Linked DNA regions of Homo sapiens. The protein of the gene in region 6 purifies or fractionates together with the protein of the main gene of each other region. This does not show direct contact. Each region holds a gene or a part of one and is shown on either strand. Other genes may lie near its edges. The genes, in order: ACAA2, TBC1D10A, LCP1, PPA2, ENO2, EZR and AKR1B1.

What was found.
Region 1: the proteins of EZR (region 6) and ACAA2 fractionate together in Homo sapiens (co-fractionation; one large-scale study listed by BioGRID). This does not show direct contact.
Region 2: the proteins of EZR (region 6) and TBC1D10A purify together in Homo sapiens (pull-down; one study listed by IntAct). This does not show direct contact.
Region 3: the proteins of EZR (region 6) and LCP1 fractionate together in Homo sapiens (co-fractionation; one large-scale study listed by BioGRID). This does not show direct contact.
Region 4: the proteins of EZR (region 6) and PPA2 fractionate together in Homo sapiens (co-fractionation; one large-scale study listed by BioGRID). This does not show direct contact.
Region 5: the proteins of EZR (region 6) and ENO2 purify together in Homo sapiens (affinity purification with mass spectrometry; 2 studies listed by BioGRID, with this or other methods). This does not show direct contact.
Region 7: the proteins of EZR (region 6) and AKR1B1 fractionate together in Homo sapiens (co-fractionation; one large-scale study listed by BioGRID). This does not show direct contact.

Annotation. Positions count from the first base shown.
Region 1 is NC_000018.10:49,792,339-49,796,830, reverse strand, and holds part of ACAA2 (3-ketoacyl-CoA thiolase, mitochondrial), read left to right. Parts: intron 1-949; coding exon 950-1,066; intron 1,067-2,403; coding exon 2,404-2,551; intron 2,552-4,492. UniProt on the Homo sapiens protein: In the production of energy from fats, this is one of the enzymes that catalyzes the last step of the mitochondrial beta-oxidation pathway, an aerobic process breaking down fatty acids into acetyl-CoA.
Region 2 is NC_000022.11:30,316,429-30,320,920, reverse strand, and holds part of TBC1D10A (TBC1 domain family member 10A), read left to right. Parts: intron 1-4,492.
Region 3 is NC_000013.11:46,147,187-46,151,678, forward strand, and holds part of LCP1 (plastin-2), read right to left. Parts: intron 3,893-4,492; coding exon 3,750-3,892; intron 1,623-3,749; coding exon of another isoform or gene 1,431-1,622; exon of another isoform or gene 1,329-1,430; intron 1,262-1,328; coding exon 1,166-1,261; intron 1-1,165.
Region 4 is NC_000004.12:105,442,071-105,446,562, forward strand, and holds part of PPA2 (inorganic pyrophosphatase 2, mitochondrial isoform 1 precursor), read right to left. Parts: intron 4,433-4,492; coding exon 4,313-4,432; intron 1-4,312.
Region 5 is NC_000012.12:6,917,282-6,921,582, reverse strand, and holds part of ENO2 (gamma-enolase), read right to left. Parts: intron 4,003-4,301; coding exon 3,869-4,002; intron 3,644-3,868; coding exon 3,421-3,643; intron 2,018-3,420; coding exon 1,820-2,017; intron 3-1,819; coding exon 1-2. UniProt on the Homo sapiens protein: Has neurotrophic and neuroprotective properties on a broad spectrum of central nervous system (CNS) neurons. Binds, in a calcium-dependent manner, to cultured neocortical neurons and promotes cell survival.
Region 6 is NC_000006.12:158,766,882-158,771,373, reverse strand, and holds part of EZR (ezrin), read left to right. Parts: coding exon 1-130; intron 131-479; coding exon 480-610; intron 611-1,429; coding exon 1,430-1,590; intron 1,591-1,955; coding exon 1,956-2,048; intron 2,049-3,861; coding exon 3,862-4,113; intron 4,114-4,295; coding exon 4,296-4,460; 3' UTR 4,461-4,492. UniProt on the Homo sapiens protein: Probably involved in connections of major cytoskeletal structures to the plasma membrane. In epithelial cells, required for the formation of microvilli and membrane ruffles on the apical pole. Along with PLEKHG6, required for normal macropinocytosis.
Region 7 is NC_000007.14:134,452,094-134,456,585, forward strand, and holds part of AKR1B1 (aldo-keto reductase family 1 member B1), read right to left. Parts: intron 1-4,492. UniProt on the Homo sapiens protein: Catalyzes the NADPH-dependent reduction of a wide variety of carbonyl-containing compounds to their corresponding alcohols.

The DNA.
Region 1 (4,492 bases), on a different chromosome or scaffold from region 6:
TCCCATTTTACAGGCAAGGAAACTGATTAAAGCCATTAAGGTTACTCAGTCATAGAATTTGAACCCAGGTCTGTGAGTGTTACCTGTGAGGCACTGAATAAAGACCGTGAGGCAAGCAGGAAATCTCAAGAATTTAGGAGAGGATAAGGAAATGTATTTTATTTCAAAGGAAGTGAATGATGCTGTTAGTAGAAGTACAAACTAGTTTGACCTTTTTAAAGGACAGTTGGTTAAATACATTTGTTTCTTTGAGCACAGAGAAGAAAGTGAAATCCAATTTCATTTGTAAAAGTCTTCATTTTATTACAAACAAAATAAGAGCCAGAGGCGTATTTTAATAAAACAATTTTCACATTAATTTGTTTCTATAACGATATATCTTAAATAGTGACCTCGGTTTTCCTAGTAATAATTTTAAGAACCATCAGGTTCATAGAGGCTCATTATTTGCTCCTTTTCTGAGAAAGGCAAACAGTGGAAAGTGTTGGAAGAATGAAGTGGTTTCCTTTTTATGAGTCACCTAGATTGAACTAGTTCTTGTAAATCTCTGTTCTTGTTCAGATACATCCATTAATGGGATAAATTTTTCTTTTGCCTTTTTAAAGGGTATGTCCTTTATTATCTGCTGTACATTTATGCCAGGTATTAATATCTGTTGATTTTCAAGATTTATATTGTGTTAAGAATTACTATTCTTAGCCACATGTAGGTAGGGCCTGTTACTCAGGCAAACATGATTGAAACCTTTTAGTTTTCTCCTCCTACATCTTGGTAATGGATACTTTAGCATTTGCTTTACAGTTACTTTAAAAGCATTTCCTTTTGAGACACTGTAAGCTACAGTACAATATTTGTTTGATTTACCATTAATTTGTAAAATCAGTGTGTTTCTTAATACATTGTTTGGGTACGGTAAAAGGAGTTTTTATTACTGTTTGTTTTTAAATAGGAAATTTGTGTTAAAGAAGCTGAAGTTGTTTTATGTGGAGGAACCGAAAGCATGAGCCAAGCTCCCTACTGTGTCAGAAATGTGCGTTTTGGAACCAAGCTTGGATCAGATATCAAGGTTGGAACCATAAAAATTTAAAAGAATTAGTTCTTATTAGCATTATATAAGTACTTTTAATAACATACCTTTTTATGGGAGAGAAAACTAATTTTGAAGCCAATTTCGTTGATGAGGATTGGCAAGATATGAATGATTAGAAGTTTGTAAACTATTTCAAAACTCTATTTTGGTGGTTAGTTTTGACATTTTAACCCATATGAAATTAGATTCTATCTATCTCAGCAGACCTCTAGTAGTATAATTATCCTGTGTAAGTGGCCATAGGCATGGGAGAGATGGAGGAAGGGAAGAAGTGGATTAAAAAGATAGACAAAAGAGTGAATTAATCTCACTACTAAACAATTAGTAATCTGAGTAATTAAATCTTTAACGTGACTTATAGAAGTTTTATTTCTGGGACAGTCTCAGAATAGATTTCTTCATCATCACAGAAAACATCTTTGAATACAGATTATATTGTCCCAAATCAAACAAAAACTGATTCTTTTATCTTTGAGAGCTACAACTTGAGAATGATGGTACAGTACTGATAAAGAATGATGTTTTCTTCTCATTCCCATGTGAAAGGGCTACTGACATTTTATATTTTTTAGCATTTTCTATAGTAATGTTTGACTCACACTGTTCACCCAGTTTCTCACCTGGCCTTTTTGGAAGTTGAAAGGAATGGGACTTAAGAGAATCTATGCGGATTTTAGCCACCAAACACATTTGAGATATCTTTTATGAAGACAGGTCAGTGAGTTAAATGTTGATGAGGCAGCAAAGTGGGGCACACTTACCAGAGACTAACTACTTGAATAATAATTAACAACCTTTCTGTAACTCTGGGAACCTGTCCCAAGATCTTTTCAGCCTCATAGTAACCGATAGAACCAGCTATTCCTGTCACTGAGGCGCAGGATGAAAAAGAAAAACAGATAATACTGTTTATTACAGAGCTCAGGGCTGGTTTACAAAGATGGCTATAAGAAAACATTGCATGAAGACTCATTGTCAGGTTTTCTACAAAATATGACCTTGAGGATTTAATTTTTGATCGTAGGGTAACTTCTGTGATCTCACCATGCACGTCTAGTCCTGTTAGCTGTTCTTAGACCCCCACATTTAGAGAGGGACAGAGAATGTGTGCATTTTATTTTGTGACATTGAATGTTTTCAAAAACATTGCATGTTTTTAAAAAATATCCCATAACTGAATATGAATAGTGGTTATCAGAAAGTCTTAATTTTACTTTTGTTTATTGGAAGTGTTGATTATTTAAAGAAATTATAACATATTACTTTTAAAAGGAAATGCCTTAACAAGTCACTTTATTAATGTCTTTTAATAGCTGGAAGATTCTTTATGGGTATCATTAACAGATCAGCATGTCCAGCTCCCCATGGCAATGACTGCAGAGAATCTTGCTGTAAAACACAAAATAAGCAGAGAAGAATGTGACAAATATGCCCTGCAGTCACAGCAGAGATGGAAAGCTGGTGAGTGAAACTGGAAAGTATCAGTATCTATAGAATAAATATCTATAGGAAATATTTTCATCATTTCTATTATGGTTATATAATATTTACAAATCATACCTTTAAGAATTATTACATCTTTTCATTATTCCTTTGTCTTTAGATGATCAGATATTTTATTAATTATTGCAAAATTAACTAGGAATTTCTCTTTTGAAAAAGTTAGTACTACTTAAAAAGTGGTATTGCTACTTGACCCTAGATGGACCCTTGAGTTTTGTGCTGAACTGGTCCTGTTGTCAGTAGAACATGATGAGGAATACGATACGTTCTGTCAGAGGTGATAGCTCACTGTGGCAACTGGAATATAGAGGATGTCCTCTCCCACAAGCCATATCATAATCATAAGAAGGGGTAATGTATTTGGAAAAGACCCACTGGGTCTTTTATGCTTTCCTTCTGCCACTCCTAATTAAGAATCATTGTACCTAACTCAGAGACTTAGAACTAGTCCGAGACTCTAGTTAGAGTGCCCTGGTGTAGCACAGCAGGTTGCTATAGAGCCGGTCCAAAACAGGCAAATGTGACAGCAGTTCTTTTAGCAGTGCAGCAAGTTGAAGAAATGTGATATTTAAAAAATTAAACTGTTAAAGCAAGTGGAAACTCTTATTTAGGAATATTAAATGCTTGAAGTAATGAGGATAAAGTCCATCTTAGCATTTCAGAAGGATAAGTGGAATAGAGCTGATGCCATCTAACTCGTGTGTTTTTTTACTTATATGTTCATAGTGGAAGAGGATTGGTCTAGAAGTCAAGAGTTATCAGTTCTGTTTCTACTTCTACCACGCACAAGTTATCAAGCTCAGTCATATCATTTATTCACTGAACCTCTGTAAGATAGAGATAACAATATTTGCCTTCCCTATTTATCTAATAAGGTTGTTTTAAAACCAAATAAGGGCATATAAGGAAAGTATTTTGCCAATTGTAAAGTGATATGAAAATTAAGGTTAGTATTATTCCTGACCCTATTTCCAAAGCTATAGATTACTACAGTACATTCTAGTCAGTGGAGGTCAAAGTAGGTAAGATGTTTTACTTATAATTGTATTAGTGATTGCTCCCATAATTTCTTCAGGTTGCCTATCACTATTAAGTTTCAGTTAGATTACTTTGTGGCATAGACAACTTGGTAACTTTTTAATTGCTTATCTCACCAAAAGAAGTTTAAAAGGGGTATTAAGTCCATTTATTGCCATTACATCTATAGCAAACAGACAGATGCTGCTAACAGTCTTAGCAGTACCTGGTGAAAAAAAATTGTGGTTAAAAAAATATAATTTTTAAAAATATAATTTTTAAAAGATGCAAAATGCATCTACATAAACACATGACAGTATCGTAAATCCTCCAATACGGAAGGTAAGTTGTGTAAGTAAATAGTAAAGACTCTATAATTTTTAAAAGATGCAAAATGCAACTACATAAACACATGATGGTATCGTAAATCCTCCAATACGGAAGGTAAGTTGTGTAAGTAAATAGTAAAGACTCAGGCTGAGCGTGGTGGCTCATATCTGTAATCCCAGCACTTTGGGAGGTCAAGGAGGGTGGATCACGAGGTGGTGAGTTCGAGGCTAGCATGGCCAACATGGAGAAACCCCATCTCTACTAAAAATATAAAAAAAATTAGCCGGGCATGGTGGTGGGCACCTATAATCCCAGCTACTGGGGAGGCTGAGGCAGGAGAATCACTTGAACCCGGGAGGCAGAGGTTGCAGTGAGCCGAGACTGTGCCGTTGCACTCCAGCCCAGGCGACAATGTGAGACTCCATCTCAAAAATTAATAAAGACTCAATATTAAAGTAGACTGTGAGGAAAAGGTAGATCAGAAATTAAATTGAATAATATGTTTGATTTATTTTCATGTTTCTCTCTTTTATTCTTATGATAGTCTCTCTA
Region 2 (4,492 bases), on a different chromosome or scaffold from region 6:
CTCACACAAGCGCCAGAATCTGGCTGGCTGTGTGATCTTGGACATGTTGCTTCACTTCTCTGAGCCTCAGTTTCTCACCTGCAGAATGGTTATGATAACACTGACTTTGCAGGATCATTCTGAGGTTTAAATGAACTAATAATACAGGGTAGGTGCTCAGTGAATGTTCTTCTCCCTCTTAAAGACTGGAGCAGCTCGTGGTTCTATCTTTTCATTTTCTACTTCCCATCTTTGGCTATAATGATGAGTGTCAGTGAGGCCCAGCCCCTGTCGGCAGGAATGAACCCTAACCCATGGTGAATCCTTACTTCCCCTGAGAGGGGTGATTATCCCCATTCTGTGGATGAGCGTACTGAAGACCGAGGAAAAAGTGCCCAAGGTTTGCCAGCTGGTAAATGGCAGAACTGGGACTAGAACCTGTTTCTTGACACTGCATCCAGTAGTGACTACACCTTGCTAAGGTGGCAGCAGGCAGGGTGCCAGGTGCTTACTGTCCCTAAGTCCCTAAGGTCCCTGAGGTCCCCACACCCAGGGCAGGAGTTAGCAGGAATCTGGCTACCTCCCCCTTCCAGTATGGAGGGCAGAGCAGGTCTCAGTACAGGGAAAGGTCATGGCCATCAAGCAGGAGAAAGGCACAGGGAGGAAAATCCTTGGAGAGGTCCTGGAAGCATGGCCAGATCAGGCCTGATTTAGTCCTCCCATAGGCCAGAGTCCGGATTGCATTGGTCTTGACCCCAACATGCTGCATAATGGCCATTTGACTTTGATATCTAGTCTGTGCCTTTTGGAAGAAGTGTTACTTTGTAGATGAGGCAGGGATTATGTTGCTTGTACCGGTGAGGAATCTGAAGGTTGGAGAACTCTTGCTGTTAGTGAACTGTGGAGCCAGACCGGAGAGGGATCCCAGGTCCTCCGACTGTCACCCAGTGCTCCTCTAGCTACATAGCACTGACCATTCTCTTCCCCTTTCTCTTCCTCAGTCGAGGTAATTGAGCCTACAGGCTCAGGATGCATTGCCGACTAGAGCAGAGCCCTGCCATCATCCATCCGTTGTCCTAGCTGATCACTTTATCCTGCAGACAGTACACTTGAGGGGTAGGAGGCCTCCTTTAACTGATTAGTCTGCCCCTGGTAAATCTATTGCCGCAATCCTGGGCCCAGAGACCCTCTCCAGCAGGGAGAACACTGTACTGGCCACCCCACTGGCAAGTCAATGCTCCTGATACTTAACCAGCTTAGAAGCCCCCACCTAGGATTTCAGGGCAGCTGCCAACTTTGGCTTTCTCTGTCTCATCCTTCCATTTCCCGTCTCTCCTCCCCCTACCCTACCCTACTCCATTCTGTGCCCTGTCCAGGTCTTCAGAGGCTGCCATAGCTTAGCACTCAACACCTCTTCAGGTAGAGAAATACTCAGCAGACCCAGCAGCCTGGGAGAGCAAACCAAGGCTTACTTTTGCCAGCTTATCCATCTTAGCAGTGAGCTTATTTACCACACATTTATTGAGCACCTACTCTGTCAGACCCTGTGATTTGGACAAGAGATATAGAACTGAACAAGATGTCTGTGTTTTATTGCCCTCAAGGCACTCACAGACTTGCTGAAAAATAGAACCACAGACAAATCTTTCCAGTGTTGAGTGATGAAGGCTGTCATTGAGGCATGCAGTTGCTCTGGGAGTACAGAGGAAAAAGCAGCCAGCCCCACCTGCAGGAGCCTAGAAAGTAGTAGCATTTGATCCAGGCTTCAGAAGAGGCAAAGCAGGGCAGTCCATTGGATGAGAGGGGGCCCATGTGCAAAGTCCCTCCCAAAAGCAGTCGTTTGAGCATGTGTGGCAAGAGCAGAGATGACAAGAAGAACGGGAGGCAGTAGGATGATACGACAAGAAGAACGGGAGGCAGTAGAATGATACGAAGCAAGGGTAGGTTAGGGAAATGGGTTGGGCAGTCTCAGTCTAGCCTTGAATGTCAGGCTGAGGCCTCTTGTGTTGCATAAAAGTTAGTCCAGGAAATGGGTTGGGCGGTCTGAGTCCAGCCTTGAATGTCAGGCTGAGGCCTCCTGTGTTGCATAAAAGTTAGTCCAGGTCTGGCATGGAAGACGGCATAAAGAGGAGCTGGATTGCAGGCAGTGAGACCTGTTGGGAGAATCAAGGATGGCCTAAAAGGGCTGTGGTGAGACCTGGAAGAGGTCTGGAGCAGTGAGGATAAAGAGGCTGGCAAATCATTAGTGCTTGGTTCATGACTGCCATGTGGGCTGATGGAGAGGTAGGAAGGCTCTGGACTAGCTGAAGTGGCTTTGGCCTCTTACAGAGTCCATTCTGGAGCCCTCTGGCTACAGGGAAGCAAGGCCAGCTGTGGCCTTCCTCTGAAGAGGGCAGTGGGCTGCTGTGACTCTGCGTTGTCACAGCTCTGGGCTCCCCAAGGTGCCTGGTATGGCTGGCTTGCCCCGGGCACATCAAGGGGTTCTTTGTCTCCTTCCAGCAGGAGAGTGGGTTGGCTGACCTGGTTGGGGAAGGAATAGGATAAGCGGTGTTGAGCTTCCTGGTCTCTGCCTGGCAGACATATTGGATGATAAGGAAGGATGCAAGGAGAACCAGAAGAGAGGACTGGGGCCTGAGGACATGGAAAACCTACCTTAGGGTGGTATGGCAACTGGGAAGGGTGGGTTTGGGCCTTTGGACACAGCATACACTGATCAAGGGGAGGCACTTGGCAACTGGAGGCTTGTTTGACCTCACCTAGCACCTTTATTCTGTTCTTAGAGGTGGTGCCTTGGCTGGGACAAAACCTGTGAGAAGGCAAACCCCTCAGCACTTACAAGGGGCACCACCAGTGGCATCCGGAGATGAGAGATTCTGGCTGGAAATGTGGATTTTAGGCTAGTGTTTGAGAAAGGGCTCTGAACCAGGCACAGGGTCAGAGTGTCAGTGATGGCTCCACCACTGACCTTTGTAATATGTGACTTAGGCACATCCCTCACCCAACCATGGGGCTAATGCTTCCAGTTTTTTTCACCCAGCACTTACTATATGTGTAGCCCTGTGCTAGGCTCAGGATATAGACCTGATCTTGCCCTCACAGGGAAATCAGACATTAAACAAGTAGTTTCAACCAGTCTGGTCAACATAGTGAGACCCTGTCTCTAAAAAATAAATTAGCTGGGCATGGTGGCACGTGCCGGTAGTCCTAGCTACTACAGAGGCTGAGGCTGAGCCTGGGAGTTTGAGGCTGCAGTGAGCTGTGATTGTGCCACTGCACTCCAGCCTGGGTGACAGAGCGAGACCCCATTTCTAAAAAAAATTTTAAAAAGAGAAAGAAGTTACCAGGTGTGGTTGTATACAAAGGATTGTGAGGATCAAATGAGATAATTGGATTAGGAGCATAGTGTAAACAAATACTGCTGAACGGAGATCTGGAGACCTTAACCCTATGCCTTACTGAGCCACTAACTAGCTGTGTGACCTTGAGAAAGTTGCTTAATCTTGGTTTTGTTTTGTTTTGTTTTGTTTTTTTGAGATGGAGTTTTGCTCTTTTGCGCAGGCTGGAGTGAAATGGCACAATTGATCTTGGCTCACTGCAACCTCTGCCTTCCGGTTCAAGCGATTCTCATGCCTCAGCCTCCCGAGTAGCTGGGGTTTTAGGTGCCCACCACCATGCCCGGCTAATTTTTGCATTTTTAGTAGAGACAGGGTTTTGCCATGTTGGCCAGGTTGGTCTCAAACTCCTGACCTCAGGTGATCCACCCACCTTGGCCTTCCAAAATGCTGGGATTACAGGCATGAGCCACCATGCCGGTCAAAAGTTGCTTAATCTTTTTAACCTCGGTTTTCCCCACATAAAAACTACGCAGTTTGTATGTGTGTGTGTATGTGTGTTTGTTTTTAAGAGACAGGGTCTGGCTCTGTCACCCAGGCTGGAATGCAGTGGTGCAATCACAGCTCACTGCAGCCTCAACCTCCCAGGCACAAGCGATCTTCCCACCTCAGCCTCCTGAGTAGCTGGGATTACAGGCTGAAGCCACCATGCCTGGCTACTTTTTTTACTTTTTGTAGAGACAGAGTCTCACTATGTTGCCCAGGCTGGTTTCAAACTCCTGGGCACAAGCGATCCTCCCTCCTCAGCCTCCCAAAGTGCTTACGTTATAGGCATGAGCCACTGTGCCAGCCAACTAAGGCAGCTTTAGTGGGATGGTGTTGAAGACAGCTACATCTGACATCCTGAGACTGACCGTGGAGTATATGAAAAGTGTTTTGAAGCCTGAGTAACATAGGGAGACCCCATCTCTACATCCCATAATTTAAAAATTAGCTGGGCATAGTGGTGCGCACCTGTTGTCCCAGCTACTTGGGAGGCTGAGGTAGGAGGATCACTTGAGCCTGGGAAATCAAGGCTACAGTGAGCCATTATTGCACTACTGCACTCCAGCCTGGGCAATGGAGACCCTATCTCAAAAAAAAAAAAACAAAAACAAAAACAGTGCTTTGAGAAGTTCTCT
Region 3 (4,492 bases), on a different chromosome or scaffold from region 6:
TCTCACTGAAATCATTAGTGTTTATCTCAGGCAGACACTTAATAACAGCACATTATTGCCTATATGCACCTGCACCAAAATCAGAAAGTCACAAGTAAAAGGAATCTCAGAGGTTAAGTAACAAGGATCTCTCATCTCCTTTATCAAACTATTTCAGATGAGTGGTTGGTTGCTCTGTTTCAAAAGAGATGCAGTAGATTCTGAAAACTGATCATTTGAGTTTATCTTAATTATTTCCAACCATTAAGATTCCTTTTTATTATTTGTGTGCACAGATGACATGAGATTGTCTATCAAAAATTTTATTTATTAATTTATATTCCCATAACCAGTTCACAAAAGATATTTACACTTGCCAGTAAGAACATATGATTAGCATAACCACTGTCTCCACATTGAGTTGGTATACTTGCAACCCAAATAAAATAAATTTTATCAGTTAACCTATGTATTATTATTGATAAATATATAATATCAATTTTATTTTTGCAGACTTCAGATTTTGAACCACTCAATGTGCTCAAATAATTCTAGAGAATCTCTAGCCATTTGTAAGTGACTCTTAACCCTAAAATTTTGCTGAAATATGGCCCACTGTCCTTAAAGTACATGAAACCACCAATTTTCAGAAAACAAAACTTTAAATTAGGATGATTTCTTAATATGACCCTTTACTAGATAACGCTACACATTATGCATTTCATGAGCTTTACTTGTCATTTACTTTTACTCTACTTCTCATTAGGAATCAGTTGACTTCAACATGAACTCATTGGATTTAACTCCAGTGATATTAAATGAGGCACAGAAACGGGCAAAGAGACTTCTCAAGATCAGTATTAAAGTGGCGGCAAAACAGAAGTTTTATTATAACATTCAGACCCATGTGGGGTTATAGAGTCTACTAAATGATGAACATATATAGAATTGCCTAGCATGCTGGATGGTGTTTAATTACTATTGGTTTCTTTCTTTAATGTTGTATTTCCAGATTCAGTTTTCATCAATTATTATCCCAAACTGCTCACAGTTTTACCGTTTTAACAGGGCTTTAGGCAGAAATGCCCAGTCATGGAACTCCAGAATCAGGGCCACACAAGGTAATGGAACTGCCAACATGAAAATAGCATCATATTCTCCAAACACAACTGGGACCTGGCCTTACCCGCAGTCCTGACATGTCAATAACAACAGCAGGAACACCTTCTTCATCTCCTTTTGGAGCCACCTGCTCAAGCAGGTGGTAATAAGCTTTTGAGTCCTGTGAGAAATTAAGAAATTCCAATTTCAAAATAGCACAGCTAATTACATACTTAGCATAACAATGATTTCCCAAAAGCAAACATTTTATTTCATATTCAGCTATCATTCCAGAATGTAACTTAACAAAGCTAGAAACATTCACTAATTTGAATGTTCTATTTGTCTCTTTACATATCACATTTGCTTTTCTTTTTAAAAGGAGCGTAACAATAAAATAGACAAGATATACACAAAAGGCACCCTAAAGAAGTGGATATTATTCTGTTGTCTTTAGGGGAGAAAAACAACTTATTTACATGAATTAAATTGTATACAGGAAAATATATATATACCTTTATATTGCTGTAGAAGTCAGTCAGCTAAGGTTTAATTAAAAAAAAGTGACAGAAAAAGGAAGCACAAGTTTAAAGCGAGTTTAAAATACATTTAAATGGACAATCAGCAAGAGAAAAAGATGTCAAAGACAGAAGATTGAAGCATTAACAAGCAATCTTTACGTAAAAGGAGAAATATTAAGAAAAGTGCATTTCATATTTATCTAGAAGCTAGAAAAATGGTTCAATTTAGTTATAGCAGATTAGATACAGGTATTGAATTCTCAAGTTTTCTTAGATTCTGAAAATATGCTTATTGACAAAAAGAATTCTCAGAATTATAGTCTTAAAATATAAATTTATTCTTAGTCAATGAAAGCATACAGATTTTCAGGTAGTTTATTTAAATCATTTAATAGCATCTCAATTTCTCATAAAGATCGAAAAATCAGCTATTATTTTGTTTCTACAACTGGTTAGGGTAGGTAAGGCCTGGGCAGAGGAGAGGTATGCTCACCACTTTTGGCATTAGAAAGAGGAGAACCAGAGAGTGTGAATCATTGATGTTGCACCTGGGGAAAATGATCTTCATCTCCCTTCTATCTACCCTCCCTTCTCTGACTTTTCACTGTAGCTATTTTGAAGTCAGTGAAAGTCACATGCAGGTGTCAGGCACCAATACCATCTGCCTGCCCTGGGTTACATCTTTTTAGTTTGGCTAAGAGTAACCTCATTTCACCTGACTCTCATGAACCTTCTCACTCACTCTAGCCTGGGTGTTCTCCTCGCCTTTGCCAATTTACACGATTTAAAGACATCTCCCAAGGTTGCTGGCTGGCTACTCAGACATACACATGACAGCACGGAGTCAGTTGCCATGCAGCGGCTGCCAGAGAACAGGCACAACACTGTATAAGTAAGTGCTCATCTGGCCAGCTCCTATCTCATACAGACACTTCCCAAAGCACAAAATGGTGGTTCTAGAGAACACAGCCATTTAATGACAGGAAATTAGGTAAATTTACAGCTGAGATCTGACAGCCTAATTTTGTCTGAAAAGTTTTGCAATTGCAGAGCTTAACTGTTGAGCACAAAGGGAGAGCATGACAGCCAGCTCCTGTTAAAACCCAGGTCGGTTGGTGGTGCTAGAAGAATGTTAATAGCCCATGAAAGATGCATAGTTAGAAAGATGGATTTAGCTTAGATCCTAAAAAATGGGGGCTTTCCATCTAGAAGCTTGACTCTGACTGGCACAGTGCCTGACACACGCTGAGTTCTAAATGCCACTGAATGCACGTCATATAGCAGTGGGAAACTGTTACTCAAAGAATTACAAGCCTAGGTGTACTCCTGTTGAGTCATGTGAACTTTCCTCTGACTCTTTCTCTTTGGGGAAAAGTTATTTAATGTTTGAGAAAGTGGAGACTGAAGTATTTTCCTGGTGTTGCATCCCAGCATCTCCTACTCTTTCCTTCTAGGGACCGCTTTCCATTCCTTTCTGCTCCTTAACCACTTTCTATCTTCATCCATCTGTCATCATTGCCAATAGCTGTTTTCTTTCACCTTGACAGGGAACTTTTCATATACTTGAAAACCACAGTGTATTCCTGCCTCAGCCTTTCCCCTATGGACCTCTTTGTCTCTTTATCTGTAAAATGAGAGGATAATAACCCTTACCTCATGGGGTTGTTGTAAGGATTCAATAAGAGAATACACATATAAATCAGTTAGAACAGTGCCTGGCATGTTGCAGACACCATGTTTGCTGTTATTAGTATAACTAGAAGAGTCATCTTCATTTAATTTTTTACAGGGAATTCCCATCTGCTGCTCCCATTTATGAAACCAGAGACATTACAGACCTACATATATTCCCTTTACTTGGACAGCAGACTGTTCTCTTGCTCTTCCTCTAGCTCACCTTTGTCCCTCTACTTCCTGATATGGAAACTCCAATCGAGACACTGCACTAGGACTCTGGGCAGGTCTGTGTATGGCCCAGGACTAGAGCAGCAGATGGGCTCTCAAGGACAGTGAGCACCTCCAAAACAGCACCAGACTACCCTGGAACTTCTGAAGAGAGGAAGCCCCAAATCTTTATCTTTTCTTTATTATTGCCCAAATTCCCCTTCACTCCTGCAGAGAGTCATGTTCAAACAACGCTCCTCCTACCTTGATGTCAGTACTGAAGTTGCCAATTTTGTTGCAGCCTGCATTTTCCAGGTGGTAATTAGCCCACCTCAGCAAGAGCTCTTCAGGGGAGAGTTTCATCAAATCCTCCAGGCTCTCACCTTCTCTCAAAAGAGCAATCAGAGCTGAAGAAGCACAAAAACCACAGAAAAATAAATGCAGCGATGTTGGGGGAGGGGGGTTGGTTATAACTTTCATTAAGCTCTGCTAAAAAGCTAAAGATAACAACGTTACCTCTTTGGGGTAAAGGTTCTTGTAGCCTTTCCCATGGATTAAATATTTTATTATTATTCCCTAAAAAGAGGCGTAAGCCATTGTGAGCTTATTTATTATCTCCATTTTCCAGATGGAGAAAACAAAGCACAGTGAATCTCAACGCTATGTTTAAGAACATTTGGGCAGAGCCATAAAAATAACCAAGGCTACTGGCTCGGATGTTTTGCTGGGTCTGTCAAACCACATTTCACAATATGACAACATTTTTGCTTTTAAGAGATCAATTTTGTAATAATAACAATGTTCTCTTGTCTATTCCCATAGGTGTTTTATATTTCAAGTGCTTACCTGCCTAATTATAGCAACTCAACAATGTAATCAACTCTCCTCTACGTTTTCCCAGATGAGTAAGTATTTTTTTGCTCAGCTAGAAGGTTTAAATTTAGCTGAGGTCATTATTTGAAGATCAATATTCTTTCTCACAGGTTCTAAGATCCCTATTTCCTCTC
Region 4 (4,492 bases), on a different chromosome or scaffold from region 6:
CATAGCTCACTGCAACCTTAAACTCCTGGCCTCAACTGATCCTCTTGTCTTGGGCTCCCAAAGAACTGGAATTACAGGGATGAGCCATCACCTATGCTTTCCCAGCTTTAATTTGGAGCAAAAGCCTCTACCAGTGTTTTTACTACTAGTAGCTAACATCAGTAGCAATCATCATCATTGAGTTAATATTATTAAGAACTCACTATGGGGCCAAACACCTCTGATCAACTCATTCAATACTCACAATAACCTTGTAGGGTAGGTAGTATGATCATACAGATAAACAAACAGGCCTAGAGAGATTTAGTCACTTGTCTCAGGTTATAAAGCTAATAAGTAGGACTATATATTTGATTGGGGAGGTCAATGAACCAAATTTATAATTAAGCACAAAATAAACATATCAATACTACATTAAGACTGAAGAAATTTTGAATTTAAACTGAATCTAGTCTTTTAATATTTTCCAGACAGGTATTCTAAATATTCACTCAATGAGATGTAACACTGAAATAACCCATTACATGTGGGCAATATGAATAAACTGGTGGGAAGACGAGATGAATTTTTGCCCAGGGAAGCTCAAACTTTGAGGAAGGCATTATTAGGAGTGCGGGAGATGCTATTCAGGCTAACGGTCTAGACAGCTGAAGGTCTGAATAATGATGGTATACTGATGAATCACAAGCTAAGTGGATAGACTACTACTTAAACAGTATTCTGCTGCTTAAATGTTCTTCTAAGTACACAGTTGGCTCAGTAACTGCTCTGAACAAGTTTCTTGCTGTTACAAGACGAATCATAGAACAGCTAAAGTATCCACACACGCCTATGAAACAAATGTGACACACATACACAATGCATTAATTTATTCATTTCACAGTTATTGATCACCTACTCCATGGCAGGCATTAAGCTGGGTAGTCAGAATGTATCAGTGAACAAAAGAGACAGAATACCTGCCCTCATGAAGTCTGCATTCTAGCTGGGAGAAATTAACAATAAACATAATAAATAAATTATACAGCAGGTTACAATTTGGCAGGTGTTATAGAAAAGGGAAATAAAGTATGAGAGGGGGAATGGGAGTAGGGTTAAAAGTTTTAAAGGATGATTGGCAGATACTATGAAGAAGATGAGTTAAAGGCAACCTAAGGAAGCCATGTGCATACCTGGAAAGGAGTGTTCCCAGGAAAGGACACAGTGAAGGTGAGGGCTTGAGACATCAGTGTGCTTTGAGCACCAGAGTGCCAGTGTGGAAGTGAAGAAGCAGAAGGCAGAAGGAGAGTTGGAGATGAGATTAAAAAGATAAATGGGACCAGGGGCTGGCTTTCATTTTAACAGGGTCATGTCTGAACATCAACCATCAAGCAGAAAAAAAAAAAAAAAAAAAATCAGGTAGAGCTATTCCATAAGCTATCCCATAAGCAATTGGCATGATTTCAGCATTCTTAAAAACATCATTCAATTTAGTTATTTTCTTTGATAAATAACTAACTTATATGCAATTTATGGTGTATTCACACACACACACACACACACACACACACACACACACACACACACAGACTCTCTCTCTCTTTTTCTCTCTCTCTCTCCAAGATCAGTCAGGTTTAAAAAAGTAGTACAGATCTCTAATTGAAAATGGCAGACAGAATGCAGGTCTATTTCCTCTTTCACTTCCATTCTAGCCACACTGGCTTCCTTTTTGATACTCACACATGCTAGGCCTATTTCCACCTCAGGACCTTTATACTTGCTGTTTCTTGTTGGACTGCTCTTCCTCTAGATGTCCACACTACTTGTTCCCTCACTTCCTTTAGATCTTTACTCAAATAACACCTTTTCACTGAGATCGTCTCCCTGTCTAAATTGCAACAATCCTAATATCCCCTAGTCCCATTCCCTGCTTAACTTTTCTTTGACATACTTACCACCACCTGACATTTTACTTGGGGTTTATTTTGTTTATTGTCTGTTTATCTGACTAAAATAAAAGCTCCAGAGAAATATCTGTCACTTTTTATCACTGCTTTACCTGCAGTACTTACAAGAACACCTTGCAAATATACAGGCCTTTAATAAATATGTACTGAATGAATGAACAGTTTGGTGAAGGCCTGGTGAGGACACAATGAGGTAAGTTAGAAACACTGAAGAAGACTTTGTGGTGGATAGACGTGAGAAAGGGGGAATGCTGCAAAATGAGGATAGAGAAGTAAGCGGAGGCCAGATCACACAGGGTTGAGTAGCAATGTTAAGAATTTTGTATTTTATCTTTTAAGCAACAGGAGACCATTAAGGTGTTCTTGTACAAGAAAAGCATCTGCAAATTTGTGTTTTAAAAATATCAATTTGGATATTGGATGGAGTATGAAACTTAGGTAGGCAATGGTGAATGCAGGGTGAATAATGAATTAAGGGACTACCACAGTCTAATTCTGTTTTATTAGTAGAAGAACTACCGTACCTGCCAGATTAATACCACTGCAGAACATCTGGAAATCCAGACACATCCAGAGGAGCACAGAAGTTTGGCAGGACTTTAAATGGAAAACTACAGAAGCTTCTTTTGTTTTTACCTCCGTTCCTCCCCTTCTCTCTTTCCTGTCAATAGGTTTGCTTTTTTATTTTTTTCATAATTTTAAATTAGTAGATGAATTAGTAGTGCCTATTATACCACATCATAACCAGCAGTTTAGTTCTTGATTGCCCCAATCAGACTAAAAACAACTTTAGGGAAAGAACCATACGATAATAAAAGTACCAGTCTTAATTATAACAATAATTGATTACTACATGTTACACACTATTCAAATGCAGTAACTCATTTAATCTCAACACAAAGATAAGAAGTAGATATTTTATGTTCTCCATTTTACAGATGAAGAAAATGAGGAAAAGTATCTTTCCCAAGGCCCAAGGTCACATTACTAGAAAGTGACAATCTCACTCCCAAACCCACATTTTCCAGTCACTTATTATGAGGCCTTGATGTCACATCTATATCCCATCTGTCTTTATATACCCAACACCTAATATCCTGCCTAGCACATAAATCCTTAATAAATGTTTAAAGAAATAAATACATGCACCTTAGTTTATTCTCTAGCTCCTCTACTTACGTCTCTGTTTTTGTCTGTCTCTAATTCATTGGCTTCTTCAGCATTACCCTCATCCACACATTTCCTACAGGCTGCATCCCCTAAGCTTTACAGAACTTTTTCAACCTTTTGCTGTTGGGTCAAACAGCATACCTATTTAAGTACCTGGAGAGTTAGAAAACCTGCTTTCATGGTTTCCACAGGCATTCTCATTCTTAGCATATCACTTTAGAAGTGCCCATTTTAACCAAGAATGTATCCATGTGGGTGATCTAACTGAATCAGAGACAGCCTGACTCTTTAGAAAACAATTTTTTTTTAAATTTTCCTGTGAATGTTTATTCTACACGGGCAGCTGCTTTTTCATGTTGGATAAAACAAGACCTCTCTTCTCAGATATTTCCCCAATACCATCTTGAAATTTCATGCAAAATATTAAAATAAATAAAAATATAAAAATTAAATTTCCAGACAGATGGTCTATGGTTTTTATAAACATAAAGGCAGATGGTTCTCTGTGTCCCCAAAACCTAGAATTTTGATTCAGCATATTCTGAGTTTTACTCACTAAATAATCTGGAAGAGTTACCTCTTCCTGGGAATGAGGAAACATGAGAGAAAACCAAAAGAGGTAAAGAAAGGAAGAAAAGCAAATAGTTGTTATTCTCCAACAGGAATGCTACCTTATCATTATTTAGCTCTTGTTTTCTCTGCTTTCTACTTAAAAATTATTAACTCATAACAGTAAATAAGTTGTGCAATTCAATTTACAATGAGTTCCAGGAAAAAGTTAATAATTTAACACATTCATCTGTTAAAGTTTAAAATATAAAATTTGTGCTATCATATATGAATGTGTATAAAAGCATAACTTGTCATGTTCAAAGGAATGACTGTAGATAAAGCCTCGCTTAAAAGTTTTTCACTGACACTTAATAGGCAAGACCAGAAAAAAAAAAATGTATTCAAAATGTCAAATGTGAACATTCCATATGCCTGACTCCAAGAACTTGAGTATAGACATATATATGGTTTAAAACAAAATTTATTGATATACTAAAACTCCATCCACGTTAATAAATTCCAAATTTACAAACCTCTCCAAATGACATGTCCTCAGAACCAATTTAAATTCAGTAGTTCACAGGATTTATAAGGCAATTTTTTCAGAAGACAGGAACATTTTACCATTGTAACAAAAATGTTACCTGAGGGAGGGTACCATAATTCCATATATAACCCTTGTAAGGGAAGATATTCGCCACATAGCGTAGCTTTCCATCCTTTACATATTGTTTAATGGGATTCATTGGCTCCTTGGTGGCAATCTAAGCAAATCACAGAAGGAAGAAAAGGAGATGGGATAAGAAATAATTAATTCTATGTCC
Region 5 (4,301 bases), on a different chromosome or scaffold from region 6:
CACTGCAGAGAGAGCATGGTGGGGAGGGGGGAGGTGTTCATCTTCCCTGGGTCTCTACATCAGGCAGGAACATGCCCCTTTATTCCCTGAAATGGACAGGCCCTTGGTTAACTACACCTGCTCATCCTTGCTAAGACAAATCCCCCCAGTGTAAGCCTGCCCTAACTGATTCTTAACTTTTTTTTTTTTTTTGACAGAGCCTCATTCTGTCATCCAGGCTGGAGTGCAGTGGCACAATCTCAGCTCACTGCAACCTCCACCTCCCCAATCAAGTGATCCTGCCACCTCAGCCTCCTGAGTAGCAGGGACTTTAGGTGTGTGGCACCACACTCAGCTAATTTTTAAAATTTTTGTAGAGATGAGGTCTCACTGTATTGCCAGGCCAGTCTCGAACTCCTGGATTCAAGCAGTCCTCCTGCCTCGGCTTCCCAAAGTAATGGGATTACAGGCATGAGCCACCACGCCTGGCTCCTGATTCTTATTTCATAAAACCTTACATGGAGAGGCCAGGCACAGTGGCTCATGCCTGTAATCCCAGCACTTTGGGATACTGAGGTGAACGGATCACTTGAGGATAGGAGTTCCCTGGCTAACATAGTAAAACCCCATCTCTACTAAAAATACAAAAATTAGCCAGGCATGGTGGTGCACGCCTGTAATCCCAGCTACTTGGGAGGCTAAGAGAATCGTGCAGTGAGCAGAGATCTCACGCCACTTCCATAGGCTGGGCACAGTGGCTCATGCCTGTAATCCCAGCACTTTGGGAGGCCGAGGCATGCAGATCACTTGAGCCCAGTAGTTTGAGACCAGCCATGAGCAACATGGCTAAACCCTGTCTCTACAAAAAAAAAAAAAAAAAAAAAAAGTTAATTAAAAGCAAACCAGCCAGGCGTGGTGGCTCACGCCTGTAATCCCAGCACTTTGGGAGACCAAGGTGGATAGATTACCTGAGGTCAGGAGTTGGAGACCAGCCTGACCAACATGGAGAAACCCCTGTCTCTACTAAAAATACAAAATTAGCCAGGCATGGTGGCACATGCCTGTAATCCCAGCTATTCGGGAGGCTGAGGCAGAAGAATCGCTTGAATCCGGGAGGTGGAGGTTGTGGTGAGCCGAGATGGCGCCATTGCACTCCAGCCTGGGCAAGAAGAGTCAAACTCTGTCTCAAAAAAAAAAAACAAAACAAAAAAAACAACCCCACCCCCCCCCCAAAAAAAATCTTCCAGTAACAAGGGTTCACAACCTAGCTTTGCATTTTCCTGTTCTCACTGCCAGCAAGCCCTTCCTCATTGCTAATCCAAATCCTTAATTCTGCAATTATGTTGATTTTCTTTCGCTCTGTGTCAGGAAGATGGCGACCAACTGCCTCCATCCTGAGATAAAGGCCCTGGGCAGACTTGCAGAAGCTAATTCAGTCCCCCTCAGCCTTCTTTCTACTCACACATCAGTCCCAGCTCCATTCAGCATCCACAATTTCATCAATCAAAGATACTGAAATGTTCTAGTTCTCTGCTAGATCCAGTCACACTCATATCATCCCTGGTTCCTTCCAGAGCCTTCCCCATGACCCCAGTAGTTTTCAGAACCCATGACTTTAATCAGGATCTGAGACAGAACAGATTGGTCACGGGTACCTGCATTTTTACACTACATACAAAGCCCAGTCTTTGCAGGTGGCTCCTGCACCCTCTCCCTGGTTCTCAGGTTCTTCTTAGGACACCCCCACCTGGTGCCTGAGTCAGCACCCCATAAGGTCCAGAGTTGCTGGGACACGTCCCTGCCTGCCCCCAGACCTCCCCCTCACACCACTTCCTCTCACCAGGATAGTCCCTGACAAAGTCCTGGTAGAGTGCCCCCAGCTGGTCCCCAGTGATGTATCGGGAAGGATCAGTGGGAGACTTGAAGTCCAAGTCATATTTGCCATCACGATAAAACTCTGAGGCAGCAACATCCATGCCAATAACGATCTTTTCCGTGTAGCCAGCCTTGTCGATGGCTTCCTTCACCAGCTCCAAGGCTGGGGACAGAATACAGTGAGATTATAGTACAAGCAGGAGGGATGGGCAAGGAGGAGGAGGGAAAGAAAAGACATTCAGGGCAGAGGTGGAGGGCTGTTCCTGAGGGAAGTGTGGCGGGGATGCTGTTGGGGTTATCCCCAGGTCTGGGAGGAGAGGCCATCTTCTAGGAACACAGAGGAATGGAATTCTCTTAATAATACTTACTATACTTTCATTGGTATCATGTCATCTAAGCATTTTATATATATTTCATTTAAGCCTCACACTACCATGAGCTAGATTCTGTTATTATTTCCAGAGAGAAGTAAGAAAGTTCACCAGCAGTAACTCCACAAGTCAAGGTTCAAATAAATCCAGGTTATTTGGCCCCAGAACCTTAACTCTTAACCACTACCTATATTCTTTCCATTCCCTATACAGTTTCCCCCAAGGCACAGAAAAATTAGGGATTCTAGAGGCCTAGGAGGTTGGGACGGGGACAGGACAGATTTCGAATGGATGGGATGAATCCAACAGTCATCCAGACCATCTCCCAGTATTCCCAAGGGCTCCAGTGACAACTTTTTTTTTTTTTTTTTTTTTTGAGACGGAGTCTCGCTCTGTTGCCCAGGCTGGAGTGCAGTGGCATGATCTCGGCTCACCACAACCTCCGCCTCCCGGGTACAAGCGATCCTCCTGCCTCAGCCCCGCTAGTATCTGTGATTACAGGCACACGCCACCATGCCCGGCTAATTTTTGTATTTTTAGTAGAGACGGGGTTTCACCTTGTTGGCCAGGCTGGTCTCAAACTCCTGACCTCAGGTGATCCACCCGCCTCAGCCTCCCAAAGTGCTGGGATTACAGGTGTGAGCCACCGCGCCCGGCCTTCCAGTGGCAACTTAACAGATGCTAACACATCTGGCTAGGCAGGTAAAAGACTGTCCCCTGGCCAGGCGTGGTGGCTCACGCTTGTAATCCCAGCACTTTGGGAGGCCGAGGCGGGCCGATCACAAGGTCAGGAGTTCGAGACCACAGTGAAACCCTGTCTCTACTAAAAAATACAAAAAATTAGCCGGGCGTGGTGGCGGGCGCCTGTAGTCCCAGCTACTCGGGAGGCTGAGGCAGGAGAATGGCGTGAACCCGGGAGGCGGAGCTTGCAGTGAGCTGAGATCGAGCCACTGCACTCCAGCCTGGGTGACAGAGCAAGACTCCGTCTCAAAAAAAAAAAAAAATACTGTCCCCCTAGGTCTGCATGTGAATTTGGCAGGCTCTCTGCAATCCACTCTAAGAACTGGTACCTTTTGGAGTTTGCAGAGTCCTAGGACCCTCCACGCCTACTCAGGACTTGGTGAACTGTGTCACCCTTTCTGATGTCCCACAATAGGGTAAGACTTAGAGCTGGGAGTGGGGCTCCTGGCCTCACCTTCACTGTTCTCCAGGATATTGGGGGCAAAGCCACCTTCATCCCCCACATTGGTGGCATCCTTGCCGTATTTGTCCTTGATGACTCCCTTGAGTGTATGGTAGACCTCTGCACCTAGTCGCATGGCATCCCGAAAGCTCTCAGCTCCCACTGGGAGGATCATGAACTCCTGCATGGCCAGCTTGTTGCCAGCATGAGAGCCACCATTGATCACGTTGAAGGCCTGGGGAGCCACAGAAAGACAGAAGGGTCAAAGAGCCCCTCCCTGCCCGCCCCAGGAGTGTTAACCCAAGATCCCAAACTTCCCCCAGCTTTCCGGACTAAGTCTCACGTCCCCATCCTTCCTCTTTACCTCCCTCAATTCACTTTCCTCCCATCATTCCTCATGAGTTGCATGCTCCCTCCCCCACCCGCCCCTGGGAGAGCCGCAGGCTGGCTTATTGCTCACCGGCACAGGCAGGATGAGGTCTGAGTTCCCGGCCAGCTGAGCAATGTGGCGATACAGGGGCAGTTCCCGCTCAGCTGCCCCTGCCTTACACACGGCCAGAGACACACCCAGGATGGCATTGGCCCCAAACTTGGCTAGGAGATTATAGAGGAAGGTGCTGAGCACAATGTCCCCTTCTCCTTTCTAGCTCCTGCCTCCATCTGTAGTCTCCAAAAGGAGCCAGTAAAGGAGACCCCCTCCTCCCTCCCCACCCCTGCCCCAGCAACACCTCATCCATGCTCTCTTGAAAACAGCAGGGAGAGGAATGGGTGGGGAGGAGGAGATTGGAAACGGCAGAGAGCCACACCTCTTTCTAAATATCCCTGAGACCACAGACTCTCTCAGGCCATCCCCCTCCTCTGTATGCTGCAAAGAAGGTCTTCCTTCTGCCTAC
Region 6 (4,492 bases):
ACAAGCGGATCCTGCAGCTCTGCATGGGCAACCATGAGTTGTATATGCGCCGCAGGAAGCCTGACACCATCGAGGTGCAGCAGATGAAGGCCCAGGCCCGGGAGGAGAAGCATCAGAAGCAGCTGGAGCGGTGAGCGCGTGAGGCCAGAGTGGGGGGGGCCTGTGTTCTCCCAACTCAGCCACTGGCAGCCAGTGCCTGTCAGGTGACTGTGGAGCTGATGGGGAGAGTGTGGTGGAATGGAACCCAGTCACCACGCTGGGATCTTCGAGGCCTTTGTCTCTGGGCGGTTGCTGTGGTGCTGAGCCTGTTGTCAGCCCTGGAGCGGCTGCTCCGTCAGGCAGCTCAGGCTGGCAGCAGGCTAGGGTGGCCCTCAGGATACCAAGTCCATCCTGGAGCTTCAAGTACCCGTGAAGTGTGTTGACCCCTCACTTTCCTGCCAGAGTCTAAATCTCCCTGTGCCTCTTTTTCCCTGCACCAGGCAACAGCTGGAAACAGAGAAGAAAAGGAGAGAAACCGTGGAGAGAGAGAAAGAGCAGATGATGCGCGAGAAGGAGGAGTTGATGCTGCGGCTGCAGGACTATGAGGAGAAGACAAAGAAGGCAGAGAGAGGTCAGGCGCCCTGGGGCTGGCACTCTACACTGGGTCATGCATTTCCACAGAGTAGCAGGGGCCACACCCACCCACCCACTCACCAGGAAGGAAACCAAGAACGTGTCCCACAGCGCAGACTCACAGCCGAAATGATAAAATGGTTATTTGGTTTGGAAAACAGTTCTGTACTTATTTAACTTTGATGCTAGTTGTTCTAAGACTTTGTATTTTAAAATTTCCCTAGTCTTTTGCGGTAAGTGCTCAATCACCCAGTTTCCCCGATGAGGACAGTAAGGTTTGGTGCGGTACAGTGATTTGCCCACAGTCCCCCAGCCCATGACTGACAGGGCCATGCTGCACTGCCCTCGACCTCTAGACTAAAACCCAAAGGCGTGTTCAGAGCCAGACTTCCCAGCACAGCTCCAGTCAACAACCCCAGCAGCTGGGCCGATTACACAAGGCGCCACAGATGCTGTATTCACTGGCAGCCCTTACAGCACACATGGGAAGGGTGTTCTGTGTTCTGAGTGGAGTGTGGACCACCAGCACAGCGGGCGGCTGACCTGGGGAGAGTAGCGCCAAGAGGGTTGAGTCAGGCATGCCAGAGAGAGGGCGCCTGGCTGGCGTTGGACGGGTTTCTAGCCATCTTGAGGAAGTTGTCATGGATACAGCAGCAATGAGCTCTGTGAAGTGCTTTCCTCCAGGGTCACTGGAAGACATCCCCTCAACCTGTGACTTGGTCTAGGGCTCTGTGGCTTTGGGGGTGGGAATGGAAAGCGAGGGCTCCTAGGTCCCTGGGCTGAGGGTTTGAATGGCTCTGGCTTTGTGTCTTTGCAGAGCTCTCGGAGCAGATTCAGAGGGCCCTGCAGCTGGAGGAGGAGAGGAAGCGGGCACAGGAGGAGGCCGAGCGCCTAGAGGCTGACCGTATGGCTGCACTGCGGGCTAAGGAGGAGCTGGAGAGACAGGCGGTGGATCAGATAAAGAGCCAGGAGCAGCTGGTAGGAATGGCCTGAGTTTCAAGATGCTGAATTATAGAGAGGCTGCTTCTGAGGATGGAAAATGTGACACCTGCCTTGTAATAATTGTCATGACTGGAAGCTGTAAACTGATCTGCTGGGGGGCTGAAGGCAGCTGGTGGGGAAGGGGCTGGGCTGTTGCCAGGGTCACCCATTGAAGGTGGGTGTGGGCATCCAGGAAGAGATGCCGGGGGTGCACAATGGACCCTGCTGGCCATGGAGTGGGGGTGGCGGGGACTCAGGTGTCACGTTGGAGACTGCTTGCCAACACACATGAACACTCATTCACAACTGGACTCCGTTGAAAGGATATCAGAACTGACGTGAGCTTGGCATTCCCTTCCCAGGCTGCGGAGCTTGCAGAATACACTGCCAAGATTGCCCTCCTGGAAGAGGCGCGGAGGCGCAAGGAGGATGAAGTTGAAGAGTGGCAGCACAGGGTGAGTCTGCACGGGGGACACCTCCGCACGGCCACAGCACCTGTTGCCCAATTGCCTGCGGTGGGGCCCTTCTGCAGGTGGGTGGGTTGGGGGAGAGGTCTGGCTCAAGCTGCCACATCCCACTGGAAGCTTCTGGGATGTCTCATGATCCTCTGCCAATACCAGCTGTACTACTGAAGTAGACATCCCCAAAGAGATGGGTTTGACTTTGTACACGAGTCAGTGCAGCTGCTGGATTCATAGAGGGAGGACCTCTGATTGACTTTCACCCACTTTGCTCCCTCCACCCCGAACTGTTCAGTGCTGATCTGACAGCCCCCGGTCAGGAACTGGTTTTAAATCTAATTATATATGTGCCCCTTGCAATGGGGTCGCAGTGCCTGAAACACGACCTCCTGCAGCTAGTATATACAGCGGGCACCATGGAAAGATCCAGCTCCTTGGACGTCTCCAGGCTGGAGTGAGAGCTGGGCTCTGCTGCTCATCAGCTATTTGGGGGCTAGTAGCATCACTTCTTCAAGCCTCATTTTCCTCATTGTAGAATGGGGGCAATACCCAACTCATAAGGTTGCTCTGCAGATGCGAGGTCCCATGCCCAGGACCTAGCACAGAGGTTTAGTCAGCTGTAGCTCTCATTGTGGGACGCACACAGAGCTTGTCGCTCCGTCTGGGATCCCCTGTGCCCTCCAGGAAGGCACAGCCCCTGAGAAGCTCTGGGGATGGTTCCCACTGGAGACTGCACACCAGGCTTTAAGCAGCTCCTCTCCTTCACAGACCCGCTGGCCCGTCCTTCCCCCACTGTGGCTTCTCCATCTGTGGAGGTGCCTTCTGGGGACGTGTCTCCCGGCTCTCCAGGGCTGCTGCTGCCTAGTACCTCCTTGCCTCTGTTCCAGCCCCCATTCCCGCTGCCGATCTGTATTAGGCTGTTCTCACAACGGCTATAAAGAACAAGCTGAGACTGGGTAGTTAAAGAAAAGAGGTTTAATTGACTCACAGTCCCACATGGCTGGGGGAGGCCTCAGGAAATTTACAATCGTGGCAGAAGGCGAAGGGGAAGCAGGCACCTCTTACATGAGGGCAGAAGAGAGAAAAGCAAAGGGGGGTAATGCCAAACACTGAAACCATCAGCTCTTGCTCAGAACCCACCCACTAGCACGAGAACAGCATAGGGGAAACCACCCCGTAATCCAGTCACCTCCCACCAGGTAATGCCCCCCACCCCCAGCATGGGGGGATTACAGGTGGAGATGAGATTTGGGTGGGGACACAGCCATATCACCATCCCAAGTTGCAAGCGGAAGACTTTGGTTCTTAGGTTTTTGGAGAAAGTACCTGTTAAGTGAGGAGAGCTGGCTACAAAGCAGATCCACACTAAGCTCAACTCTAGGGCTGGCTGGGATGGAGGCGGGCGGGACTGGGTGTGTGTGAAGCTGTTGGAAGGACTGCAAGTGGCGAGCAGGAGAGCACTTGATAATGACTGTGGCATGAAGGGAGGCTAGGAACAGAGCCCGTTACTCATGCTAACAGGATTTTTTTTCTAAAAATTATATAATGTCTAGAGTTACAGGTAAAAAAAGAAATGGTAGTTTTAAAACTGCCCAGGTTCCGGCATCACAGTTCCTCTTCCTGTCTTGGACGCAGAGGGTTGTAAACCCCCCATGCACCCTGAGGGTGCTCCTCTTCGAAGCCACAGCCCAGCACAGTTCAGTGCTGCCTTAGCCTGCCAGGACAGAGGGAGGTGACAGTCTGTTCTCATAGCCAGGAGGATAGGACTTCTGGGTGAGAAGTCCTCTTATTAATTTGCTTTCCAAAGGCCAAAGAAGCCCAGGATGACCTGGTGAAGACCAAGGAGGAGCTGCACCTGGTGATGACAGCACCCCCGCCCCCACCACCCCCCGTGTACGAGCCGGTGAGCTACCATGTCCAGGAGAGCTTGCAGGATGAGGGCGCAGAGCCCACGGGCTACAGCGCGGAGCTGTCTAGTGAGGGCATCCGGGATGACCGCAATGAGGAGAAGCGCATCACTGAGGCAGAGAAGAACGAGCGTGTGCAGCGGCAGCTGCTGGTGAGGCCCAAGGGGCTCTGTCTCCAGGGAGCCTGCCTCGCTTTTGGAGCAGACAGGCTTGGGGAGGGCAGTGATGTGAGCCAGCCCCACCCAGCACCCCTCTTGCCCTTCCTGTTTTCCTAGGGGACGGGCCGGGCCATATGGGGAGGAAGGGACTAGACCAATGCTGCTTAATGTTACAGACGCTGAGCAGCGAGCTGTCCCAGGCCCGAGATGAGAATAAGAGGACCCACAATGACATCATCCACAACGAGAACATGAGGCAAGGCCGGGACAAGTACAAGACGCTGCGGCAGATCCGGCAGGGCAACACCAAGCAGCGCATCGACGAGTTCGAGGCCCTGTAACAGCCAGGCCAGGACCAAGGGCAGAGGGGTGC
Region 7 (4,492 bases), on a different chromosome or scaffold from region 6:
CTGAGATAGTAAGGGAAACCATTTCCTTCAAATATCTCAAAATATTTCAAAAATAGATGTCCTATGGACCCCAATTCCCATGTGGCTCCCCAGTTCAGCCAGTGAATGCCTGCCCCTTACGCTCTCTTTTCATGCATGGCTTCTGATACCGGCAGTCGCTTGTTTTCAAGCGGTTCTGGGAGATTATCATGAAGTTAAGCACATCACTGATGTTTATTCAAAGGCCCATGTGTCAATTCTCACTGTATGAGGATCTGCTTCAAGGGGTGGAGACACGGGAGATGGCCCCTCAGAGGTATCAGCAGAGAGAAATAAGTTAAAGGGAAACGAGGGGGAATGTGGATCATGGAAGATCACCAAATGGTTAGTGGCTGACCTGGCAAAATGACTGAATGGGTGTCCATGGCCAAGCCACCTGACCATCTGAGTAACCAGAACAGCTGTGGGGAGCCTGGCTACTGAAGAGGAGGAGGAAGTGCCTACATGGCATCGCGCTTCACTGGCACCCAGGTAGGCTGCATGGACACGTATCCCCCAACTTTCACTATCCTGCTATGATCACAGAGCTGAGCAATAAACATGTGCAGCGGGCTGTTGAATGAACAGAGCACATTCCTTTGGAGAGCTGGGGTAGAAACAAATGAAAAGAAAAACCCCCCAGGGCCATAGCAGCTGCAGACATCTGTGTTTTGACATCAGCTATTTTCAACAGGCTTTGGGGAAGAAAGGGGCCCAGTTGAACAAGCCCGTTACCAGAGCCTGTTAGCATGGAGCTCACTCTCCACCTCAGAGGGAGCAGCGAGGCAGGGTGGGGATGCTCATCGAAGGTGTGGGTTAAGAGGGGACGACCCTCAGAGGACCTGGCGACCTCTTATTTGACTGGAGGACCTCAGAAGCTGCTCTTGCAGCCTTCCCCACTCTGCACGGTTGAAGGAACAGAGAATCTCAATTTCCAGAAAGAATGCCTTACCACAGGCCCTGAGTGGTGTCCGGGCACAACCACCACTGATGACAGCAGGGAGAGCAGAGGACATCCCTACCCCAGAAAGAACAACTGGGGCCCAGGCAGGAAACTGCCCAGGACACACTGAACTTTCTCCAGGCTTGATGGCGCCTTGATTGATTTTTCTCTGAGGAGCTGCTGAGGGCACACTCCGCAGGCTCAGCCTAGCCACGCACTGCCTGCCATGCAACTGGTGCGGGGACAGGAACATGACTCAATCCAGGCCATAAGACTCAATCTTTGCACTTGAATTGGAACCCCTGAGTCCAGCCCCGGTTCTGCTGGGGTCACTGAGCTGGGAGAATGTCAGCCTGGAGCTGCTGCAGGAAAGTGGAGGGAGGCCAAATCCTGGTGACAACATTTACAACCCTGAATCTCAAACACCTAATGTCAGCGGCTGTTGTTTGGGGAAGTCAATCAATCCCCACCCCAAACACACTTTTTTTTTTCCTGCTTAAGATTAAAGTGGTTTTTCAGTTCTTTGGAACCAAAAGAGCACAGACTAGGATAATCAAGCTTGCGTTGGCACGACATGAAAAAAAAGTTGTGAGAGGTTTTTCTAGAAAAGTAAAAGACAGCAATGACTGCAAGAGGTCACGAAGAAGCTGCTGATCATTCCTTGGATATGTGCCATTCGCTGGAGACATGTGTGCTGGGAGGCTGATCAAAGGTGCTGGAGGGAAAAAGTCACCTCTGCAATGAAAATGTACGAGGATCCACAACCACATTCTATGTTAATGATCTCAATGTACAGCCCTTCCCTGAGAGAAACTAATTTGCCTTATGAAAAATGAAGCAGCCAACTTAAGCTATGGTGAGAAACCATTCACTAAACTTGGGAATGCCAACACAGGATGACAACATCTCCCCATTCCATGTCAACAAAGAGAAAATGCAAACAGAAGGAGGGGTCCAGATTGACTTCTAAAAAGAAGGTAAACTATGAAAACATGCTGGGTGGCATCCAGGCACAGCCATTACTGATGAGAGCTGTAGAAATGCAGTATATGAAACACTCCAATTACAGCTCAATCATACAAATCCTACATGTTTCTAACCCGATCCTGCCACTAATCTGTGTGCCCTTGATGGGCAAAACCATGCATGCCCATTCCTCCCAGAACTTCTGGCTCTGCAAAGCTCTACGTTGGGCAGTGACTTGAAATGCTCTGGGCTGATGGCACCAAGTGATGGCAGTGAGAAGCCTCTGCCCTTGAGTCCTCCACCACCTCCTTCAAGACAGCGGTCCTAGTTCCTCCTTTGATAACACCGGCTGGCTAATACCAACTCTGAGACACTGATAACTAAAATCAGTGTCTCCCTCCTACACAGATACAACACTCCTTTTAAAACCTAGTCTTCTTCCCTTTTGCTTACAGGTCTTGCTAGTTACTTCAAGATACCCCTCCCTCTCTTCCCTCTGCAAGTCAAAAAGCAAGCCACAGTGCTAAACAGGAAGACGGTCACAGGACAGTGTTTATGGTAAAACCAAAGTATCTCAGAGATTGGATATTTTGCAATATTAACCACGGGGATCTCTGGGAACAGGGAACTCTTCATTTTTGAAATGTTCTCTAGTTAGCAGGTGTTACTACTGAAATCAAAGGATAAGGGGAGGGGGCAAAGGAAACTTCACTTTGGGTAAAGAAACGGTCCTGAGTAGGAAGCATGAGAATGCTGTGCTGATAATCCTGGAGCAAGGAACAGGAAACGATCACTCAGAATCAGGTTTGGCAGCAGAAATTAACTTCCTCCTGTTCTGTTTTAATCAATTTGTCCCAAATTCTAAGACACTGCTGTTTCCAACTAGTTGAGATGTGCATGGACCAGGACTGACCCTGTAGGGGCAGGGCTTATTTAAATGTCTTTGGTCTTGAAGAGGAAGAGATGGGGGCTTTAGAGACACCAGGGAAGTGAACAGTAAATCTGGCTCCTGTGTTACCTCCATGCCCACAGCGCCTCAACCCTCACCCCATCCAAGGATCTTGGGCCATCACAAGCTTACCCCACTTGGGGAAGGTGGAGCAAGTCTTTCCTGGCACATTTTCTTTTACCTCATGCATTCTTAAAGTGGGTGCTATTGTCCCCAAAGAGACAAAAATTAGTTCTCTGGGGCAAAAAAACCCCCCTCAGCTTATAGAACAGCTTGTGACCCTCTAGAAGGCTACTGGCCATAAGCAGAAGTACAATATTATCTCTGATATTACAATTTTATTTTGGGGCAAATTAGGGGAAAAAAAAGTCTCACAAGGCTCCTAGGTGGGAGGGAGGTAGTGATCATGGCAAAAGATGGAGAAACATAGTTGTACCTTCAGCCCTAGGAGTATTCTGTGAGCATACATAGGAGACTTACAATGACTTTTACCTCCAACAATTTTTCAACTAGATTAAAAACACTATCAGTAACAAGACACTGGTGGGCACCAGACATCATCTCTGTTTTAAAAGCTTCCTGGCTTTACAATGCTGTGATGGGTTTTTGTTGTTGTTGTTGTTTCTGAGACCGAGTTTTTTTTTGCTCTTGTCGCCTAGGCTGGAGTGCAGTGGCACAATCTCAGATCATGGCAACCTCTACCTTCTGGATTCAAGTGATTCTCCTGCCTCAGCCTCCCAAGCAGCTGGGATTACAGGCACCCACCACCATGCCGGGCTAATTTTTGTATTTTTAGTAGAGAGGGGGTTTCACCATGTTGGCCAGCTGGTCTCGAACTCCTGACCTCAGGTGATCCACCCGCCTTGGCCTTCCAAAGTGCTGGGATTACAGGTGTAATTGTTTACTATCCAATGTAGAAGGCAAGACTGCCAGAAAGAAACCCTGTCCAAGCCACATGGGTCTGGGGCAGAGATGGTCTCCCCATCTGCCTGAAACCCTCACCTGAGAAGAGAATGGAGTTTGAGGACCTTCAAGAGTAGAGACTACCAGAGCCCTGCTGAGGGTCTGAAAGGTACAACACAGCCGCTACGGCATGGGAAGACCCAGGAGAATAAGGAACTGCACCTGCCTGCAGGGCCTCCTCCAGCTGTCACAAAGACAGGCAAAGGATCACATCTTCTGTCGAGCATCTGTGAAAGAATACATACACACATACAAGGGAAAGGTTTTTTTGTTTGGTTGTTTTTTTAGATGGAGTCTTGCTCCATCGCCCAGGCTGGAGTGCAGTGGCGGGACCTCGGCTCACTGCAACCTCCACATCTGGGGTTCAAGCGATTTTCCTGCCTCAGCCTCCCAAGTAGCTGGGACTACAGGTGCGTGCCACGATGCCGGGCTAATTTTTTGTATTTTTAGTAGAGACGGGGTTTCACCATGTTAGCCAGGACGGTCTCTATCTTCTGACCTCATGATCTGCCCGCCTCTGCCTCCCAAAGTGCTGGGGTTACAGGTGTGAGCCACCGCGCCCGGCCCCAGGGAAAGGTTTTAAGTCATTAAAAAAAAAAAGGAAGTTGATTCCAAGTCCATCCTTATACCATTACTTTGACCCACCATTCCCC